Homo sapiens: one gene and its partners. The protein of the gene in region 2 interacts with the protein of the main gene of each other region in a biochemical or structural test. Each region holds a gene or a part of one and is shown on either strand. Other genes may lie near its edges.

Region 1 (7,000 bases), on a different chromosome or scaffold from region 2:
ACTATGTGTGTTTTATTCTGTATCCTGCCTGGTTTTCCATTTATGAGACTCTGTAGAAAGGATGCTTGATAAAGGCTTTTCTGGAAGGAAGGAAGGAAGAGGGAGGGAGGGAGGGAAGGAGGGAGGGACAGAACCCTGTAGATCTCTGGGTGTAAAGGACACAGGAGGCACACTGTTGGAATAAGTGAGCCAGCCCAATTCCATAGAAAGAAAGAAGAGCTCAGAAAAGCCCAAACATCATATCCAGGAATTAGCCAAGATGGGTTGGCTACTCAACTACAATGTGATTGTCCGCACCAGTCTTCCCGACTTTCCTGCCAGTGCCGCAAGTAACAGGCATCAGTAACTGCATGATGTGTGTAGCTGTTGGACATTGAGTAGCCTTTTGTGTGCACAGTGCTTGGAGATGGCTGTTTTTCCAGTGGAGCAATGTGCAGTGCTGTGAGCTGTAAAGTTGTCTAAAGCAAGTGTGTCTTGGTGCCCTTGGCTGGGTGAACATTCCTAGAAATGCCAGGGGCCAGCCTGAGTGCACGGGACCCAGTGATTCCTATACTTGCTTCTTTCATGCAGAGGTGTTCTGAGGCTCACCTGTGCTTTTAGAAGCACAAAGGGGCTTCGAGTGACCAATCAGATGTGCCTGCTGCAGGTCCACTCGTCTCTAAATGCTCTGACCTATGGACTGTTGTCCATAGTTGAGAAGAAGCTAGAGTAAAATAAAATGTATGAGTGAGTGAATCTTTTTCTTTTTTTTTTTCTTTTCTCTTTTTGAGACAGGGTGTTGCTCTGTTGCCCAGGCTGGAAGGCAGGGGCCCGAGCTCAGCTCACTGTAGCCTCAACCTCCCAGGTTGAAGAGATCCTCCTGCCTCAGCCCCAGGAGTACTGGGACTACAGGTACACACTGCCATGCCCAGCTTATTCTTTGTATTGACGGGATCTCGCCGTGTTGCCCAGGATGGTCTCGACCTCCTGAGCTCAAGTGATTCATCCCGCCTTGGCCTCCCAGGGTGCTGGGATTGCAGATATGGGACACCATGCCCAGCCGAGGAAGTGTGAATTTCTGATCTTGGGCTAGCTTACCACAGTACTAATTAAACTATTCAGTTCAGGGGATTAGTTAATTGTTGTTATTTCAGTTTTGGTTTTTCACTTATCTTAAAAGCCTCTCAAATAGATTAGAGGCCCCAGAGCTTGTGTTACACCTCTATCCATCTCTCAACTCATCTGGTAGGCATTTATGAAGCGCTGGTACTCTTCCCTCTGCACCTATCTTCTGTGCTGGGCAAGTACTGTGCCACCTGCAGGGCCATAGCTGTGATTTAGGTTCATTACAGAGTTCTTGAGATGTCTGCAGGGATTCTGGAATTTGATGTGACTCGGCCACTGGGTGGAGGGAACACCAGTAATCAATACTGTATTGTCCACCAGCTGAGAGGCCAGGCTGTGGTCGTTGGTTTTGTTTTTTTGTTTGTTTGGTTTTTGTTTTGTTTTGTTTTGTTTTTTGTTTTTGTTTTGTTTTGTTTTTGAGACGGAATTTCACTCTTGTTGCCCAGGCTGGAGTGCAGTGGTGCAATCTCGGCTCACCACAACCTCCACCTCCCAGGTTCAAGTGAGTCTCCTGCCTCAGCCTCCTGAGTAGCTGGGATTACAGACATGAGCCACCACATGCCCGGCTAATTTTGTGTTTTTAGTAGAGGCGGGGTTTCTCCATGTTGGTCAGGCTGGTCTCAAACTCCCGACCTCGGGTGATCTGCCCGCCTCTGCCTCCCAGAGTGCTGGGATTACAGGCATGATCCACTGCCCCAGGCCTTTTTTTTTTTTTTTTTTTTTTTTTAATTAAAGACAGTTTCACTATTGTCGCCTAGGCTGGAGTACAATGGATCTCAGCTCACTGCAGCCTCCACCTCCCGGGCTCAAGTGATTCTCCTGCCTCAGCATCCCAAGTAGCTGGGATTACAGGTGCCCACCACCACACCCGGCTAATTTTTGTAGTTTTAGTAGAGACAGGGTTTCACCATGTTGGCCAGGCTGGTCTCAAACTCCCGACCTCAGGTTTTCTGCCCGCCTCTGCCTCCCAAAATGCTGGGATTGCAGGCATGAGCCACCGGGCCTGTGCTTTTCTTTTTTTCTTTTTGAGACAGTTTCGCTATTGTTGTCTAGGCTGGAGTGCAATGGCGTGACCTCGGCTCACTGCCCCCTCCACCTCCTGGGTTCAAGTGATTCTCCTGCTTCAGCCTCCCAAGTAGTTGGGACTACAGCCACGCGCCACCACACCCAGCTAATTTTTGTAGTTTTAGTAGAGACAGGGTTTCACCATGTTGGTCAGGCTGGTCTCGAACTCCTGACCTCGAGTGATCCGCCCATCTCGGCCTCCCAAAGTGCTGAGATTCCAGGTGTGAGCCACCGCGCCCAGCCTGTGGTGTTGTTCTTATACTGAAGACTCATCTGGAAGCTGTTTTTCTCTCATTAAAAGCGGGGACAGTCAGAATTGTTACCAGTGAGGAAACACTCTGGCGACCCTGTTCTTATGCACCCCAGTAGTTGTGTGTGTATCACCTGCTGCTTGCCAGCAGCCCCTGGGCTCAGTGCTCAGGACAGGCCTCAGTTTGGTACCATCCACAGGCAAGCTGGGTATGACTCACAAGAGACCATAAAGACTCAGTACGCGCACTGTCATGGCTGGGGCACTGGGAGTGTCATACCCTTTCCAGGTGTCCACACCTAATTAGTGGGTCATCTTGGCAGAGGGTGGGGGCATGTTGGAGCTGTAGAAAGCTGGGGTCATTTCTAGCCACAGAAGAATTTGCTTTTGCTCCCAGCTAAACCCAAGGCTTTCCCCAAGGGCCAGCACTGTTACCAGAGCCTCCTTTTCTAGATTTCATGCGGACAGTACATTGTGCCGGCCCTGGTAAGTTTGGTCCTGATGGTGAGGTTGACTGATTGTCCCCAGATTTCCCTTTTCACCGTCTGCAGTCTCCTCTAAGAGGAAAGGGGAGCACGTTTCAGTGGCTCCACGTATGTGGATTATATTCTCATCCTCAAATCAAAGACCTTTATACTCAGTCCTGCATTCTTCCTGCATGGCCGTTTGTGTATGTCAGGATGCCATTTGGGAAACAAAATCCACTCTAATTATTCCTAAGCTTAGTGGATTTTAACATGGAAGGAGAAGCCTAAATCAGCAGTGTCTGGGCTGGGTCTCCAGGAATAACTCTTGACCTCGAAGCATTGACCCACCTAGGGAGCTGCTGTGTCTGCTCCATGAAGAAGGTCTGGAGGCGGCATCCACCCCCTGCACTCATATCTTTGGGTTCGTGTAGACAGTACTGCAGACCCTTTCTAGGGAGGAGAGGCCTGGGCTCAAGACATAGCAGCCTCTGCCAGAAGTGTTTCTTCAGGATGCAGCTGTGCCTGCCAGTGCCAACACCCTCAGCAGCTCAAATCGGCCTCCATCCCCTGCCCTGCCAGTAGCATGAGTGTGTCTGTTTGAGGGAACTCGGTTCACGTCTAGGATCCTGGCTGCACGGGAGTCAGAGTAGAGGATTAGAGCTTCTTGTCACTGTAGGGCAGGATGTCCTGCCCAGGGGACAGGCAGGGTGAGGTGAGCAGTAGGGCTTTGGTGGTGAGAACTTTCCTGAAACAGCCCCTCCTACGTGCTCAGCAAGAGGGAAAGGGCGTTCCACTGGCCCCCCTAGATGGGTAAGAGCACTTGGCCAGAAGGTGGGAGGAACCACGTTTGAAACTGTTGGAGCAGAAATTGTCTAGATGTAAGTTCTGAGCTGGCAGGTGAGAGGCTTGTCAGGTTCTTAGGCCCCCAGGACAGAGAATTGGATTGTGTTCAATCCTTGGTGTGTGTCACACGCATTGGTCATGCATAGCCTGCTTTTCTCTGTTAGTTACTTGTAACAACCTACTGAGCAATGCAAATCCTCCTCCACATGAAGGCTCCACCTTGGCAGTGGCCTACATTGGTCGCGTCAGCTTGAGAGAGCATCATGCCCCTAGTGCTGTCTAAATGTTCACTGCCTCACGTAACCCTCACAACAGCACAGTCAGATGTGGGCTCTGGTGACTCTGCTTCAGAAGAGAAAGCTGCAGCCCCCAGATAGTAAGTAAGGTCCCCAGGTCTTGCAGTCAGCACATGGTGTGGCTGTGGCAGCCCCCAGATAGTAAGGAAGGTCCCCAGGTCTTGCAGTCAGCACATGGTGTGGCTGTGGCAGCCCCCAGATAGTAAGGAAGGTCCCCAGGTCTTGCAGTCAGCACATGGTGTGGCTGTGGCAGCCCCCAGATAGTAAGGAAGGTCCCCAGGTCTTGCAGTCAGCACATGGTGTGGCTGTGGCAGCCCCCAGATAGTAAGGAAGGTCCCCAGGTCTTGCAGTCAGCACATGGTGTGGCTGTGGCAGCCCCCAGATAGTAAGGAAGGTCCCCAGGTCTTGCAGTCAGCACATGGTGTGGCTGTGGCAGCCCCCAGATAGTAAGGAAGGTCCCCAGGTCTTGCAGTCAGCACATGGTGTGGCTGTGGCAGCCCCCAGATAGTAAGGAAGGTCCCCAGGTCTTGCAGTCAGCACATGGTGTGGCTGTGGCTGTGTTCACGCTCCAGGAGACTCCACTAAACACCCAGCAGGGAGAGACACAGCACATCAGCTGGGAGGTGGAGTGACTTGGGAAGTGGGCTTGACTGACTGGGAGAGGTGCACAGATCCTCTGTGGGTGGGAGGAGGGTGGGGCCTCTGCTGCTCACCAGAGGGTTCCACAGAGGGTGTCACACGTCAGAAAAAAGAAATGGCTTCGTTTATCACTTATATCAAACTGATTGCTTCTTTCTCTTTTGTTTTTCTCCTTCTGTTTACAAGATTGTTGACGGTGAGTGGTTTCGTTTCCTTTTTCACTGGGTTTGGAGAGGAAACTGGCATAGGTGAGAGCCGCGGTGCTGCAGGTCTTGCCAGACCATCCCCAAGGGCTTGGAGCGCTCCAAGCAGGAAGATGCCTTCGCAGATGCTGTGGTCAGACCCACACAGCCAGTCCCCCTTGTGCCTGCTGAAGAAACTTCACCACTATCATTGAGCACTGAGCTATAGTCCTTTCTTGTGGCCTACCAGATTTTGGAGAAGGCTGGTAGCTCACAGCAGGGGTTGGGGGGTTTCTCCTGGGAAGATAAGATAGTGGCCTCCAGAGCTGGGCAGAACCTTCTGGGTTATAGCTGAGCATGGCAGCAGTTTGTCTCTGGGGGTCCCAGGCAGGGAAGGAAGAGGGTCTTAAGAGGCGTCAGGATGGGAGTGGTGAGGATGGTAAGAGTAGAGAGCCTCCAACCTGAAAATGTGACCTCTTACCTTAGAAAGAAGAAGACCAAGGAGGAATGCTAGGAGGCTGCCCCAGGACCATGCTGACAGCTGTGTGGTGAGCAGTGACGATGAGGAGTTGTCCAGGGACAGAGACGTATATGTGACTACCCATACTCCCAGAAACGCCAGGGATGAGGGCGCTACAGGCCTCAGGTACCAACGTGCCCCCAGCTCTGCTGCCGCCATGCTAGGATGTGGGGCCAGGGCATGGGAATACTTTTCAGCAAATCTGTGAGCCCTTGGCCCTGGAAGGGCTTGCCCAAGCCTCTACCCAGCATCTGGATACAGTTGGAACTGGGTCCAGAACTGAGTCCAGCTATTCCCACTGTAACCAGAGGATGCCAAGCGCTGACACAGTGTGTGCAGACAGTCCCAGTGGCCCCAGACAGGGATCCTGGGGCTGGTAGGGGCCTGGGGGAGGGCAGGGTGACTCAGGTTGTGTGCACCTTCTCATGTTCACCCTCCCACATGCCCTTGGGGCAGTTGGCTTTCCTGAAAGTCTCTCGGATGCCCGCGCTAAGGCAGAGTCAGGAGGCCAGGGACGGGACTCTTGTAGGGGATAGGGGCCACTCACGTGACAGGGTATAATAAAATGTTTGCGTTGACTGAGAAACTAACGTGAAGCACTGTGCTCTTAGGCCCTCAGGTACTGTCAGTTGTCCCATCTGCATGGACGGATACTCAGAGGTAAGTAAACCAAGCTGTATCTTCCAGGCTTCTGGTTTCTAAACTTCACTGAAAGAATTGGATGAGACAGGATCTTCCCCCTCGGTGGGATTGGACACCCCTACTCACAGTCATGCCTGGGCCGTCACTTATTGCAGATCTGCCTGTGAGGGGAGAATGTGCCAGTTTCTCCTTGGACCCTACAACTTTCACCTTCAGCCCCTATACTCCTGTATGCCCTGAGCTTCCGGGTGCAAATGCGTCCTCCTTTTTTGTGCCCCATCCTGGCTCTAACTGAAAGCTGCTAGTGTTTACTGGGGTCCCTCATAACCCTCTTGGGCTGTCACACTGTTGAGATGCCATGGCCCCTGCCTCCTGCTCTCCAGCTGAGAGAGACCACAGCAGACACAGTTAGCTCTCCAGACCCCTCCCTGTTGTAGCCTGGCCCTTGCTTTCCTTTAATTAGTCATCTTAGGCATAGGTGGGTGGGATTCTCTGGCCCCATGGCTGCTCTGGGACAAGGGCAAACTCGGAGGCTCTTCTTTTTAATGCCTTCTAGATCGTGCAGAATGGACGTCTCATCGTTTCCACAGAATGCGGCCATGTCTTCTGTAGCCAGTGCCTCCGTGATTCCCTGAAGAATGCTAATACTTGCCCAACTTGTAGGAAAAAGATCAACCACAAACGGTACCACCCCATTTATATATGAAGTATTCAGAGCCCCCCAGGAGAGACGGATGGACAGACAGACAGCCAGGTTCTCCAGTGGTATCTGCCTCCATTTTCCTGAGATCAAAAAGACTGTTTCGAAACCAACATCTGATATGTAAACTGCTCTTTTGTTTCCAACCCCTTCCTTTTGTTATCTCCAGTTTGATGCTATGGCGCTGGACCCAGGGCCCTCCCAGGCCATCTCTGTTCCTCTGGGGTGGTCCAGTTCTAGAGTGGGAGAAAGGGAGTCAGGCGCATTGGGAATCGTGGTTCCAGTCTGGTTG
Region 2 (7,518 bases):
TGATACCAGCTGCAGCCACAGAGAGTGAACTGTTTTTAAAAATGAACCTCCTGCTATAGAGCTTGCCTATTTTTTTTTTTTTTTTACAAAAATAAATAAAATGAACCTCCAATCATGGTCAGTTGCAGCATATTAACCACCACCACCACCCCCCAAACAACAACAACAACGCACACACACCCCTCGAAAAGATAAAATGAATCTCCAGCTGTTTGACAGCCAGCCACAAGGCAGCCTTCTCAGGACAGCAAGCCCCCGGCTTCTGTGCTGTCCAGGGTGCCTCGGGCTGTAGCAACAGCTTTGGAAACACTTTACCTTTGACACTGTGCTTGCCCTTGGGTAACTTGCTGATATGTGAAGCGTGCTTCAGTTCATACCTATTCAAAAGAGGACAGTCTCAGAAGAGGCCTTCACACTGGGCTCTCGAAACCAACAGTTTGATTAGGAGAATAAGATCAGATACAGAGATGAGATAAAAGTCCACAAAACCCAGACCATCTAAACTGCTCAGGCTCCCTCCTGAGTTTCTGGAACTGTTCCAGAACCTGAAACTGCAGTTGCGGCTGAACATAGTTTGTGCCCAGCGATCACTGCTATGGGGCCATTTTCAAGGCAAGGCCCTATTTGGAGTGGTGGTCAGCAGCTCTAGGTTTCCGTCCACATTCCACAGTCCCCAGACCCCTGGCCTTTTACATGACCTTGTGCTTTTGGTTACAGTTCACAGGACTAGGGTCGATGTCCAAATCAAGCTGGACTAATCAGATCTTTCTCTATGGAGAATCTGGAAGTGGAATTAAAATTCCAGTTCCATTTGGGTTGGTCTAAGAAAACTGAAACACTGGTGAGTGGAGGAGGCGGCCTGGGGGATCATCCTTTGTGCAACTCAATCTCTCTGCTTCCCAGTCCATGGAGAGAAGACACTGCCAGCTCTGGAGGCCTGGCTGCGTTCCTGCCCTTGCATTTCCTGAAGTATCCTTGTATCTCCCTTGTTCCCTTAACTTGAATTGGATTCTGCTACTTATAAGAAAAGAATCCTAATTGGTGCGTCCAGTAACTGCAGTGGGGAATTTCTACTCTCCCAGCCAAGGGGAGTTCTGCCTATAGCCCATTCCACCTGTCCCCATGAAATGCCATCAGTCCCAGAGCCAGGTTTACTCACATGTTTCCAAGGGCAACTTCTCCCAACAGGATTAAGCCTATTGGGTCTCCCTGAGACGTATGGCAGTAGTTGGCACTCTTGGAGACCATGTCAGCGAAATAGATCCCTTTACCAAACATGTAGCCTGTCTGGAAGGTCGGAAAAGGGAGAGCTGAGAATCTTCTGATGGGAAATTAGGAGCAGCTGTTCACTGAGTGCCAACTTGAGCAAGCCACCCAGCTAAGTGCTGCAATCCATCACTTCTAATTCTCACAATGCCCATGGTGAGGAAATACCAAAGTTTTAGCTCACAAGCCAGGCTGTCAGATCCTAGCTCTGCCAGGTGCCAAGGAGCTGCAAGAAGCTACGTAACCTCTCTGGACTCTACTTGCCTCTTTTCTCAAATGGGGAACACAGTCTCATGGAGCTGCCATGAGGACGGAATGAGCTCATCAGTGTTACTTAAACTAGCGCCTGTCAACACCCAAGGAATGCAGGCTGGTATTTTTATTCCCTTTTGTAAATGAAACACGAGGTTCACAAAGGGTAGGCCATTTGCCCGTTATACACTACTGCACAGCCCCAGAGAGAATCATTTAAACTTCTCTCCTCCTCATTCTACAACTGTGAAACAAGAGGCTTAGAAGGTCCTGTCCAGGTGGACCCATCTAGAATCCAGCAGGTGGCATCACGATCCCTCGTGTCTAGGTAAAGCCTTACTCATTCATCGCTACGTTTTCCTGCTGAAGACACTGACACTCAGAGGTGGCCCGGCTGGGAAGTGGTAGAGATAAGCCTGGACTCAGCTTGGCCTGTAGCCACGTGTCTGTTCTTTGCTTGTCAACACACCCGATTAGCATCTGCAGCAGGCCCTGGCCTGGATGCTCTGCCTCCTTTGTTCCAGAAACTGTGTTTGAAACCCCTGACAGGGTTAGGGTCAGGAGGATAAAAGGGTGAAGGCCCAAAGAAAGGATGTCTGGCAGAATCCCCCTAAACCAACTAGACCTCTTGCTCAAAGTTCTTTATGGAGACACCTGCAGAGACAGGCATTGCCCACCCCTCGCCAGGCCAGGCACATACCACGGGCGCTTCAGGCGGGGCTATCCGAAGACCCTGGGACAGGATCCCAGCAAAGTTGGTGGTCCTGGACCCGTGCCACAGCAATCTTCGGTTATGAAGCTGCTTAAAGGGCTTGTAACGCTGGCATTCGCCTTCACGCTCTATCTTAAAGATCTGGTTGGAGTAGTAAACAAAGGGAAGGACAAAAGAAGCCATTTGTTACTCTGGTTGACTGAAAGACAGGACTGGATACACGAGAAATGACCGGCTGTCCCTAAGGCTAGAAGACTTAAGGTCTGCTGCAATGTAAAAAGTGTTTTCCACAAGGCTGGGATGGAAGGTCCAGGTCCTGCCCAGCAGCGCCCAGCCATTGCTGGTTAGTATTACTGTGCAGCAGATGTGCACTTGAGGAACTTTATCTTGGACATCTGATAATCTATGTTCTGAGACCAGGTTTGGGGACAGGAAATGTCCTTTAAAACAGAATAAAAAGCCATCCCCAAACTACTGTATAAGACTGCTAATTTTATAATCCCAGCACTTTGGGAGGCCAACGCAGGCGGATCATCTGAGGTCAGGAGTTCAAGACCAGCCTGGCCAACATAGTGAATCCCTATCTCTACTAAAAATACAAAAATTAGCAGAGTGTGGTGGCTCACGCCTGTAATCCCAGCTACTCTGGAGGCTGAGACAGGAGAATCACTTGAACCCAGGAGGCAGAGGCTGCAGCAGGCCGGGATTGCACCACTGCACTCCAGCCTGGGTGATAGAGTGAGACTCCATGTCAAAAAAAAAAACAAAAAACAAACAAACAAAAAAAAAACTACTAATTTTTCTGCTGAACAAATGAGTCACTTCTTTGGGTTATTTAAAGTAAATAAACTGCTCTTTTCTACCCAGGCCCAGGTTGGAGGAGTGGGCAGGGAAGAGCTGGCAGGACACAGAAGGAAGTGGGGGAAGAAGGGATTCTTACATCGATGACTTCCAAGTCATACGCATTGTGTGTGGTTGCATGAGTGTTCTTAACATACTTCCTGATGATCTCGGCTTCTTCAGAATCTCTGTCAACCACCTGGATAAACAGAATCTTGGGATTAGCACAAAAGAGACCCAGGAGAGCTACAGAGGAGGAATGCTCAGGCTCAGTCAATGCATAGCTCAACACCACACTCCTCAAAGGAAGCCGGGCATGACCGAGAGCCTGTGTCCCAGGCCTGTGGGCTGGGCAGATCCTGGGCCAGTGGCTCCACTTACCTAAGCCTCCACCTCTTCATCTACTTGGGCTGCTAGAGAATCTCAGGGTTCCTTTTTGTCTTAAAATTCTATGTTTTGGGATATCAGGGAAGCTAGAATGTGGGATTCACTGTCAGTGAACAGGGCATCTCCAGAACAAGCAATTGGCTCCTGGAAGAGAGTCCAGCTCAGCATGAGTTAAAACACAATGGGCCAGAGGAAGTCACAGCTATGATGTGCAATGAAAATTATCCCTGGCTCAGAGCACAGGCCTAACAAGCATCTGTCAAATAGCTGATGTAATCTATGCTCAGTAAGCCTGAGTATTACGGAGGAGACTAGTTATGTTTTATTTTCATATTTATATTCAAACTTCAGAAAACCTAGAATGCTGGTCTACCTCCCTGTCTTTTAATTAAAAGGCTTCAGAATTGTAAAAAGAGAATAAGAATCCCTTCACGAAGAACCACACCTACAGTTTTCCCATCAGGAAGGTGCTCTAGGGGCAAAACAAATGACATGTGGTGTCTTACCCTGCTTGGACCCATAGGTCTATACTTTGTCCTAGGAAAGAAGCCAAGGCTCTTTCTTTAGCGATGTAAACACCTGGTACCAGACTCAACATACTCTCGCCCACCCAAACCCCTGCAACACTGCAGGGAATGGGCTGAGGACAATGGGGCACATGAGTGTGGAGATAGGCTCAAGGACCGGGCCATCTAGAAGCTGAGGCAAAAATCCCTCCTCTAGTTGGTCTAAGCGGGGTGTTCAGAGACTGTGTGTGCCAACACAGTCCACTTCAGCACCAGAGAAAAATGAACGCAAGCATTGTGTTTTTATTACAGGTGCCATCAAGCATTTCCACTTCTGAAATGGACACCGGTAATAAGTCTTCTAAAAGTTCACGCTACAAGGGTTTAGAAAAACAGAGCTCCTCTCTAGATTAAGGAGAGGAAACAAACAAACAAACAAACAAAAAAGAACTTTTGGTAAGACCCTCAAAAATAAATTTGTACGCCAAGCTGAGGTGCTGGCTTGGAAGGCTGCCTTGCAAACAAGGTGCATTATCTACACGTGAAACGCCCAAAGGTTCTCAAAGGACCACCAGCAGCAATGTCCGGGAACTTGTTAGAAAAGTGAATTATTGGGCGCCAGCCACCTGTGTTTTAACAAGCTTTCCAGGAGATCCTAACACACATGGAAGTTTGGGACCGCTGCTCTCAGGATGAGAGGTTAAGATGCTTGAGGAAGGCCTGACCCTGTTACCTTAATGTCAGTTTTGAGCTTCTCATAGTTGACATCGATGGGATCCTTGCTGCTATCATCAGACCCTCCCCTGAGCAGACTGTAGGCCACCTCGATGTCCAGCAGGTTGTCAAGCATTTCCACCTTGGCCTGGAGGAGCAAAAGAAAGCCCCCGACTTAGGTATCATGGTGAATGAGACAGACTCACCCAGGTGGCAGAGAAAACCTACATGCAGAGAAGGTCCAACACAGTGAATGGCAAACCCTCCTGCTGGTCAGGGCCAGCCTGTTACCTGCTGCACATATTGAGAGCTCATAAGGACTTTCTGGAATGTTAACAAGGCCTTGTGGCCTGGGGGAGTTGAGAGGTGGAAGAACTGTCTTTCCTCTCGTACATGCTGACATTTGGGACCTACAGTGAAGGTACTTTAGACAAATGGGTCCTGAGCCAGGAGCTGTCTTAAAAGGCAGGGAGGGAAAATGGGGAGGAAGATGCTGTTATGAGGGAGAGGCTGTCCCTCTCCAACAGCTCTTTCCCCAGTGGATTTGGTAGAACAGGGGCAGGAAAAACAGCTCTGCCTCCATCAATGTGGGTAGAAACCCAACTTCAAAACAAGGGCAAGAGGGTGGCCCTCCCAGCATTGGTGCTGCCCTCAGGGATCATGATGGGGAGGGACGGCTGCAAGGTAGTCACACCCCAGCCCAGCAGACCTGCAGTCCCTTCTGAACCCTTGCGCTACCTGCACACTGTCTGCATTGTTCAGGAGCGGAGGCTTCTTCATCCCAAAGTCGTGGGGGATCAGGGTGTAAAAGCGATTTGAGAGATCCAGGATCTGAGAGTCGCTGCTGCCCTGAGACACCGCCTGGAGAGGAGGGGACAGAAGGAATGCAAGACTGAGGGAGCAGCTCCAAGCCCCCGGCCAGGCTTTCTCTTTTAGCAGGTGGGTGCTGCAGCAGGTCCAGAAGTAGCGTGGTATGTGCACATGCCAGGACACATGGGAAACGACCAGAAGACCATCTTCCTGTTAAAGAGCAGGGCAGGACCCCCATCCTCTAAAAGCACTGCTCAACACGTGATGGGCTTCTCCCATGAAGTTTCATTTGTACAAAGAACTGTGCAGTTACAGACATTTGAAACCCCGCCACAACTATGCAAAATGTTAACTGTAAAATCTAGGTGGTGGGCTAATGACTATTGCTGTAAAATTCCTTCAACTTTTTGTATGTTTGAAACATTTTCATAATAAAATGTTGGGAGGAGGTTGCCCATCGCTATAAAATTCAGTCAGGCTCCCTGCCTCCACTGACCTTCATTGGAATTAGTTTTTACTGTACCTGGAGGTTGAGGTGGCCAGGCACAGAAAGGCTAAGCAATCCTTACACTCACTGCCAGTGTCACTTGGTGCTCTATATGCAAAGGGTGCACAAAAAATGCACAGAGATGGAAGAGCGGGGCCACTGGGATTCCAGGAATTTCGCAGACAGCCTAGGTGACCACAGGAAGGTCAAGGGAATATGAAGTGGCACCCAGCAGGTCCGAAGCCCCACGCCTGCTTCTCGCTGTGACATGGACTTCACCAAGTTGTACAACTTCCATCTGTGCTGCCCAGGTGGCTCTGGCAATGGGTAAGGATGCTATTCCAGCTCTTCTTCCTGAAGACTATTGCATGGGAAGAAGCTGGGGCCGAGGAAAGCCTTGTAAGTTCTCAGTCAGTAAGGAACAAGGAGAGAGGTTCACTGCTCAGAGCCAGCTGTAACTGAAGTTGACAGATCCGGTTCAGCGCCTTTTCTCCAGCACCAGCCAGAAAGCCCGCTGCCTGGGCCCACTTCTGCTTCCTGTGTGCTTTCCTTCTTTCTACAGGCCAGGCCTGCACCCACCCACAAATATAAGCGGAACCCTCCAGCCCCTCCAGGATGTAGCTGGAAGGCTCCGGGACTGGTAGACCTTGAAAGATGCTCAAAGAATGTTGAAATAACATGAATGAAAGAGGCTTCCATTTGATGACTTCCTAGTAACTGCAAAATAAACTCTGCCTAACTCTTAAGGACACATAAAATAAAAACCACAACACAGGTGACCCTTGAACAATCGATTTGAAGTATGCGGGTCCACTTATACACAGATGTTTTCAATAAATACAGTTAGCTCTCTACACCTGTGGGCTCTGCAGTTGAGAATTCAACCAAACTCAGATAAAAAATATAGTATTCTCAGGCCAGGTGTGGTGGCTCATGCCTGTAATCCCAGCACTTTGGGAGGCTGAGGCAGGCGGATCACTTGAACCCAGGAGTTTGAGACCAGTCTGGCCAACATAGTGAAACCCCACCTCTACTAAAAATACAAAAAAATTAGCCGGGTGTGGTGGCCCATGCTTGCAACCCCAGCTACTTGGGAGTCTGAGGCACGAGAACCGCTTGAACCTGGGGATGGAGGTTGCAGTGAGCTGAGATTGTGACACTGCACTCCAGCCTGGGGGACAGAGCAAGACTCTGTCTCAAAAAAGAAAAAGAAAGAAAAATCCCACCAAAAAAAAAAAAAAAAAATCTCAGGATGCGAGACCCACAGATGTGCAGGGCCAACTTTTCTCCTCCATGGGTTCTGCAGGGCACTCTAGGACTTGAGCATGAGTGAATTTTAGTAACCCCGAGGGAGTCCTGGAACCAATCCCCGAGGATACAGAGGGATGACTTCACTTTTAACAGAGAGGGTAACCAACGTCTTCAAGTTTATGGTCAGTTTACTAAGTATCTGACAACTGAAAAATGTTGCTCTTCATTAGTTTTGTGATAAACTTTTGTAAGTAGCAGGCACTTGTCATTTATTGAACTGAAAAAAATCGAAA
Region 3 (7,000 bases), on a different chromosome or scaffold from region 2:
TGCACTCCAGCACGGGCGACAGTCAGACTCCATCTCAAAAAAAAAAAAAAAAAAAGCTGATCGGATGGGACCATTCCCCCTCCAGCTGGCCCATGTGCTGGCCCCCTCCCCAGGCTGTCCCCTCCCCGGCACATACAAGTTCTCTAACTCCCGGACCCACCCTGTCCAGCTAAGAGCTACCAGCACTGATTCCCCAACCCAGGTCCCCCAGATCAAGAGTAGAGGCAGCACAGTCAGGTATGAGGGACACAGGGGGCACTGTCCTGGAGGGGCGGGGAACAGGTGCCCCTGGCTAGGCACAGGGGTGATGCCGACCACTCTACCCATCAGTGAAAACATTCACAGGCTGCCATGGGAGGGGGACCAGTGGGCAGGAAGCAGAGCAGGAGGCTGCAGCCAGCGGGCAGGTTGGGGAGCTGGGCTGGGCAGGGCAGGGGGCCACAGGGGATGGGAGAAGGACTAGCGGGACATGGGGGTGGCTGCTGGCAGCCCCCCATCTGGTAGCAGTGGGCCCATCCCTCCTCTTCAACCTGAAGGCCAAGACCTGGGGCAGAGCTGGCGGAGTCCCCCTGTTCCCCAACCACAGGTATGGGAAGTGCCAGCGGGCTGAGTGGGTCAGACTACCCCACATGTGGGACAGTGACACAGGACGCTCCGTGCCCATCCAGGCCCCCAGTGTGCAGACGGACAGATGGTGGGCCTGGGCGGGCAGCAGGCCTGGCTGTGGAAGGCAGACGGCCACTTGCCTCCTGCACTTCAGTTTCCTCACTGACCCCAAAAATCATACCAGAACCTCAGGGGCGCTGAAGCCCTCGGGGCAAGCAGGGTAGCCCCCAGCCTTCCCCGGGCCCACCATTCTCGGGTTCCAGCCTCTGCCGCCCGCGCCCAGGCTACTGCGTCCCTCCTCCTGGGCGCACCATGTTCTGGCCACAATGAACTCCATTCAGCCCCATGAATGAGCCCTCTCTGGCCATCGGCCTCTGCCCTCACTGCCCTCTGCCTGGAATACGCTCCCCTGCCCCCTCCTCTCTGCCTGGCTTCTTGAGAGTCACCCTCGGGTCTGGACTGAAACGCTGCTGCCTCCAGGAGGCCTTCCTGACTGCTACCTCCTCACAAATGTAGAGTAAATGGCTCCTGCTACTGACAGCTGCCCCTGAAAGCCCTCCGTGTGCCATGAGACTTATCACCTGGCACTTCTGTGCTGCACCTGAGCAGGGACCACGCTACCTTGCTGTGGCCTGGGCAATGCTGGCCCAAGGGCTTCAGAGGCTGAAGGGCACAGGTGCCTACACACAGCACAGCACATGCCAGACCGGCGGCTCTTGGCTGGTACCAGGGCTATCTGCCTCTGGGGGCATCTGGAGTCGTGGTGACAGGGGCTCCACTCTGCACAGCAGGCGGGTGGGCAGGCAGATTCCTCGGGGTGCCCGCTGCGGGCCAAGACCCTGGAGGAGCAGCTCTGTGCCCGGCCAGCATGTATCCTTCCTTCTGCCCCACATTTCCTGACAGCCTCTCTTCCCAAGTACCCTGACAGGAGGGTCAGGCTCCCTAGCCGGACTCCCCAGGTGGCGCAGGCTGGAAAGGGGTGGCGCCGGCTTCCTTGCCGACAGGCAGGACAGGGTTCCCAGCCTGCAGAGGTCCAGGCCAGAGCCTCTGCTCAGGAGCAGGAGCCAGTCGGCTCGGGAGGAGGGAAGGCAGGCCGCTGTGCGACCTTGGGCCGTTCTCCGCACTGTTCTGGGTGCCAGCCCCGTCCCCACACACGGCACCTCCCACTGGAGCCGATCACCTACAGCCTGAGGCCCCTGCAGCCTGCTCTGTGGCTCTGTCACCCCCTCCCCCAGCCCAGCATTCCGCACCGCGTGATTTATGGCTCCTGTCCGCCTGGCGCGGTCTCCATCCTGGAGCCGGCCGGCGGCTATTCCGGGGAAACAGACCAGAGCGGTGGGCCTCACGCTGGACGGTGGGTCACAGCCAGAGGAGGGAGTGAGGGAGAAGCCGGTGGAACTGGGTCCTCCGGAGGCGGCCCCCGGGCAAGGCCAGCACCACAGAGTGCACCCTGGGGAGGGACACAGCCCAGGGTCAGGGCGGACAGATGGCATCTCAGGTCCTAAAACCATGGGGACCACTGCTTCGGGGCCAGGGGCTATGCTCCAGGAAACTTCTGAGGACCGAGGTGGCCCCCAGGGAGTCCCCCAAGAGCACGGAATCCAGGAAAGGAGGTTCACCTGGCGGCCTGAGATGGAGAGAGAGCCAGTGGGAGAGAGAGGCAGGGTGGGGATGGCCTCTTTGTTCTGAGCCGCCAGCACAGGCACACTGGTGTAGACAGGGGAGCAGGCTCTCCCGGAGATCAGGTGACCGGGGTCCCTGGTGGCTCAGGGCACAGCGATGTATTGTGGGACGGAGCTACTGGTCCCCGTGCAGGAAGGAAGCTGGTCAGCCCCGTCCCCCGCCCTGGACCAAGCCTGCCCTGCCGCTCCCAGGAAAGCCCAGCCTCCCTGTGATGCAGGTCCTTCCCAAGGCCCAACCTTCAGAGACAGCCAGCTCTGCCCAAGAACCTGGCAGGGGGAACAGCTTCCCTCATGAGAGAGCAAAGGCTGGGAAAGTCAGTCCGATGGAACTCAGGCCAAGACCCTGAGTCCCCCAGGACAGGTGCCACTGGGCCAACCTGCTCCCCAGGAGGCTGCTGCTAGACACCTCCTGCAAGAGAAAAAAGGTGGAGGCGGAGCCTCACTTGGAAGGCGGAGCCTCAGGCTGGAGGGAGGAGCCTCGGCTGCCGCAGGAACCACCGACAGCACCTTCCTCCCTCCTCCACTTCCTCCATCCTCACCTGGAAGCACAGCCCCTCCAGCCTAACCTCACTAAGTCCCAGGGCTGCAGATGGGAGGGGAAAAGCAGCCAGTTCCCCTTCCCCCTACCCCCATCAACGCTGCCTCCCTGGGCAGGGGAGCGGGGGCCAGCTGGCACCCAATGGACTGAAGCGTGCCAGAGAAGGGCCCTCAGGCCACAGCAGGGGCCAGGCAGGTTGCTGGGTCAGCAGGGTGGGAGGGGGCATGCACAGGGTTCTGAACCTCGTGGCCTTGGTCCTGTTCCCTGCTGCGTGCCCACGCCTGGTGCCCATCACGCACCCACCCAGCAGGCGCTCCGATGTTTACTGTGCGAAGGAAAGAGTGGGGGCAGGGGAGGGGAGGCAGGAAGAAGAGACGGAGAGACCTCCAGGCACACAGAGGACTTGGTGAAATCTGAGCGCCTCAAGGCACAGGTCCGCAAAGGCCCAGGACGTTCCGCTCCCTATCTGGGAGTCCCAGAGGCTGCACACTCTCTCTGCCCTGGGGGCTGGGGCTGCGGAGGCCTCCCTGGCCCTGAGCTCAGGGCTATGGCTGAGGCAGAGACTGGGCTCAATGCCCACCTGCAGCCTGAATGGCCACGGCTGCTGGGGAGGCACCAGGGGCCTGTCCACACTGCTGTGGGCTATGAGGTCCTGACACACAGTTCCTGCTCAGTCAGTGCTTGCAGACAAAGACACGAGAGAGAGAAGCGTGGAGCCCAGCACCTCTCCTCCGCCTGGGATCGCCCTGAACCCCCAGCACGCCCGGTGCACACAGCCTGGCAGTGACCTGAGCCCACTGACCAAGGACACTCCTGCAGGCTGCCAGCGAGGAACCAGAGCCCGGGGGAAGGATGCCACTGGCCAGCCCCCTTTCCAAGGGGAATAAGCAGGGAAACCAGGCTCCCAGGTGGCCCTGGTCACCCCTGGCCCTGGCAGTCACAGCCTGGTGTGGTCCCTGCATGCGCCACAGAGTCTGTGTGAGCAACGGACTCTGTGGGGGAGATGGCGAGGCGTGTCCGAGGTTGGGTTATAAAAAGGGCTCCAGCTCCCAGCTTGGAGGTGCACACTCGCTACCCTAGGGTGAGGGAGCCACCAGGCTGAGGACGCCCAGGCAATCCGTGCAGGAGTCCGCACCATGAGGACCTGGGGACTGTGGCCAAGAGCTGGCGAGGAGCTGAGGCCTGCCAGCCACCACACAAGGATGTGCCTGCTCCAGCCCTGGTCGAGCCTCCAGATGAGGTGGCTCCAGCCTGACTGAGCCTCATGAGAGCCCCCAAGCCCCAATGCCCCGCAACACAGCTCACAGGTTCCTGAGAGCTAACAGACGCCCCCTGCTTCCAGTGGCTCCATTTCGGGGTAACTTGTAACACAGCAAGGGGTGACCAATATCAAAGATGGTCCCTTTGCTTCCGAGGAAGGACACCCCTGGCCACTGTGGCTCCCCGCCCTGGCTGCGCCACAGAGAACATCACTCGAAGTCGGCTGTGTGGCTGGGCTGGGCTGGGCGACGGGGCCTAGGTGAAGCCTCCAGTCGCAGCCTCCCCAGGGTGACCACTCACCTAATTCGGTGGGCTTCAGCAGCTCATCCAGCATATTAAAGAACGGCAGCTTCACCAGGCGGACTTCTGGCTTGAGGGTCTTGGCGGGCAACCGTCCCAGTCCGTTTAAGTACTTTCCGTAGAGCACGGGGTAGTCAATATTGGGGCCTGCCAGCGGAGTCCTGGGCACAGCGCCGGCCCGGTCGTAGGTGGAGTGCATGGTCAGGGGGTCCAGGGGCCGGTGCGGCTGTGGGGCAGGCTCCGAGTTCTTCTTGGCGTAGCGGGTCTCGTACAGCTCCTTGATCTTCTTGAACAGCTCAGGGCTACAGTCAAACTGCACCAGCTGGAGGGCCCTGGTGACGAGCTCGTGCTTCAGTCCACTCTTACTCCGGCCCACGAAACCCAGGAGCATCTGAAGGTCGGAGACTCGAAAACTCATCACCATGTTCTGAGGAGGAGCAAGCACACACACACTCAGAGGACACAGCTGCGAGGCAGGGGACTCCATGGAGGCCAGGCCCCGATGTGGGGGCCGTGAAAGACACCCACTCGCCAGGAAGCGCCAGCCTTGGCTGGGGCTGGTGGAGTGCCCTGCCCCTACGGTGCCCCCTCCCAGCAAAGCCCTGCCCCCTCCCTCCTCCTCATCAAACTTTCCCCAGCATCGCCAACGCAGCAAAAGCGCCTCTGACTAGGCCCCCCCTTCTATTTTAGGTTCTCTTTCCCTGTCTTCAGCCTGAAAGCATCCCCAGGGCAGGAACTGACAATTGTGCTTTACTTGTAAACAGCCTCTGCCAGTGCCTTACCGGCAAACACCAAATGCCTCTCTGACCCTCAGTCTCTACGTCGGGAGGATAATGACATAAAGCACTGGCTGGGCGGGCGCTCAACCCATGTCAGCCACAGATATGTTTTCCCTTCGGTCTCGCCAACGGTAGCCACAGTTTACTTAGTACTAATCACCTGCCGGGAACCAAGCCGGTCATGTGATTATATATTTAACTCTGATCCTTAAAACACCCCTGCTAGGCTGGTGTGTGAGCTCTGTCACAAATGAGGAACTGTCGGCTCAGAGGTGGCAGCGCCAAGATTCGAACCCAGGCCTGGCTCTGAAGCCAGGGGCGGTTCTTGCTGCCACACTACCCTCTGGATGTCAACACAGGGCTGGGCCTGTGGGGGCCTCCGAAACATCTGCTGATCATCCCAGGCAGGGTTTCTCCTCCTTGGCCCTGTGGACACTGGGGCCATCCTGGGCTCTGTGTGGTGCTAAATACCCACAGCTCACGACAACCAAACACACCTCCACACCCCACACACCTCCACACCCCACACACCTCCACACCCCACACACCTCCACACCCCACACACCTCCACACCCCACACACCTCCACACCCCACACACCTCCACACCCCACACACCTCCACACCCCACACACCTCCACACCCCACACACCTCCACACCCCACACACCTCCACACCCCCCACACCTCCACACCCCACAGCTCCACACCAAACACACCTCCACACCCCACACACCTCCACACCCCACACACCTCCACACCCCACACACCTCCACACCCCACACACCTCCACACCCCACACACCTCCACACCCCACACACCTCCACACCCCACACACCTCCACACCCCACACACCTCCACACCCCACACACCTCCACACCCCACACACCTCCACACCCCCCACACCTCCACACCAAACACACCTCCACACCAAACACACCTCCACACGTTGCCCTGAGTCCCTGGGGGACCGGTCCAAGGGGAAGATAGCAGCCACAGGGGCTGTTGCAGGACCTGGGTCAAAGCGACAAATGAGGCTTGGCAGGACCTGGCCCTCATCGCCTGGCCGGGCCTCTCCAGCGAAATAAAAACCAAACAGCAGAGCCCAGCTGACCCTGGTGTTTGAGGTGGGGTAGACTGGCAGTGGCCTGACCTCCATGAGGGGTAGGACCCTGAAGGGGAAGGAAGGCTCCTCAACAGGCTGCAGAAGCCAGGTGTCCTCGAGGGATGGGCTGGCAGGGTTTCAGGGCCACCCACCCTTAGCCCTGAAGCTGGCCTGGGATGAATGAGATGTGGTGGGAAACAGTAGCTTCCAGGAGGAATGGGGAGAAAGCTCAAGCGTCAAGGGTGTTAAGGAAAGCTGGCGGGTACCCGAAGAAACCAATAAACCATTCAAACTCCACTCGAAAGACCCTGAGGGTCGAAGCCAGAGGCAGTCCCAGTGGGGTATGTAAACTGCAGCCTCCGTGCCAGGAGGCGCTGAGGTTTCCGGCTCCTGGCTGCCCCAGGGTGAGACCAGGAGCCTAGCCGCACATTTCAGCACCAAAGCTGCAGCAGCCGGGGCCCACTGTCGGGTCCTCATCTGTCAGCTCTGATTTCTTCCAGCTGTATCGGGCCAGGGTCCTGTTGGAGACGGAGAGGCTGTCCAGGCTCAAAATGACAGGGACACACGTGCAGGCGGCCCAGCCCTGCCCAAAGAGCCTCGGGAGAAGCCTCTTCCCATATCAGGGCTGCGGGGCCCCGTGACTGTAAAGAATCGGGATGCCAGCGTCTTGCTCCCTACCAGGCACCAGCAAGGCCTGTGTCGCTAATTTCACAATGAGGACACCCATCGTGTA

The links. The genes of interacting proteins can lie anywhere in the genome.
Region 1: the proteins of PARP1 (region 2) and RNF4 form a complex in vitro, tested with the Homo sapiens proteins (2 studies listed by BioGRID and IntAct, with this or other methods).
Region 3: of the proteins of PARP1 (region 2) and PIAS4, one has a biochemical effect on the other in vitro, tested with the Homo sapiens proteins (3 studies listed by BioGRID and IntAct, with this or other methods).

What each region holds. Positions count from the first base shown.
Region 1 is NC_000004.12:2,507,106-2,514,105, forward strand, and holds part of RNF4 (E3 ubiquitin-protein ligase RNF4), read left to right. Parts: intron 1-4,850; coding exon 4,851-4,860; intron 4,861-5,332; coding exon 5,333-5,492; intron 5,493-5,977; coding exon 5,978-6,026; intron 6,027-6,564; coding exon 6,565-6,714; 3' UTR 6,715-7,000. UniProt on the Homo sapiens protein: E3 ubiquitin-protein ligase which binds polysumoylated chains covalently attached to proteins and mediates 'Lys-6'-, 'Lys-11'-, 'Lys-48'- and 'Lys-63'-linked polyubiquitination of those substrates and their subsequent targeting to the proteasome for degradation.
Region 2 is NC_000001.11:226,362,784-226,370,301, forward strand, and holds part of PARP1 (poly [ADP-ribose] polymerase 1), read right to left. Parts: intron 5,539-7,518; coding exon 5,416-5,538; intron 4,826-5,415; coding exon 4,697-4,825; intron 3,270-4,696; coding exon 3,171-3,269; intron 2,372-3,170; coding exon 2,219-2,371; intron 1,288-2,218; coding exon 1,160-1,287; intron 378-1,159; coding exon 316-377; intron 1-315. UniProt on the Homo sapiens protein: Poly-ADP-ribosyltransferase that mediates poly-ADP-ribosylation of proteins and plays a key role in DNA repair.
Region 3 is NC_000019.10:4,010,736-4,017,735, reverse strand, and holds part of PIAS4 (E3 SUMO-protein ligase PIAS4), read right to left. Parts: intron 4,814-7,000; coding exon 4,387-4,813; intron 1-4,386.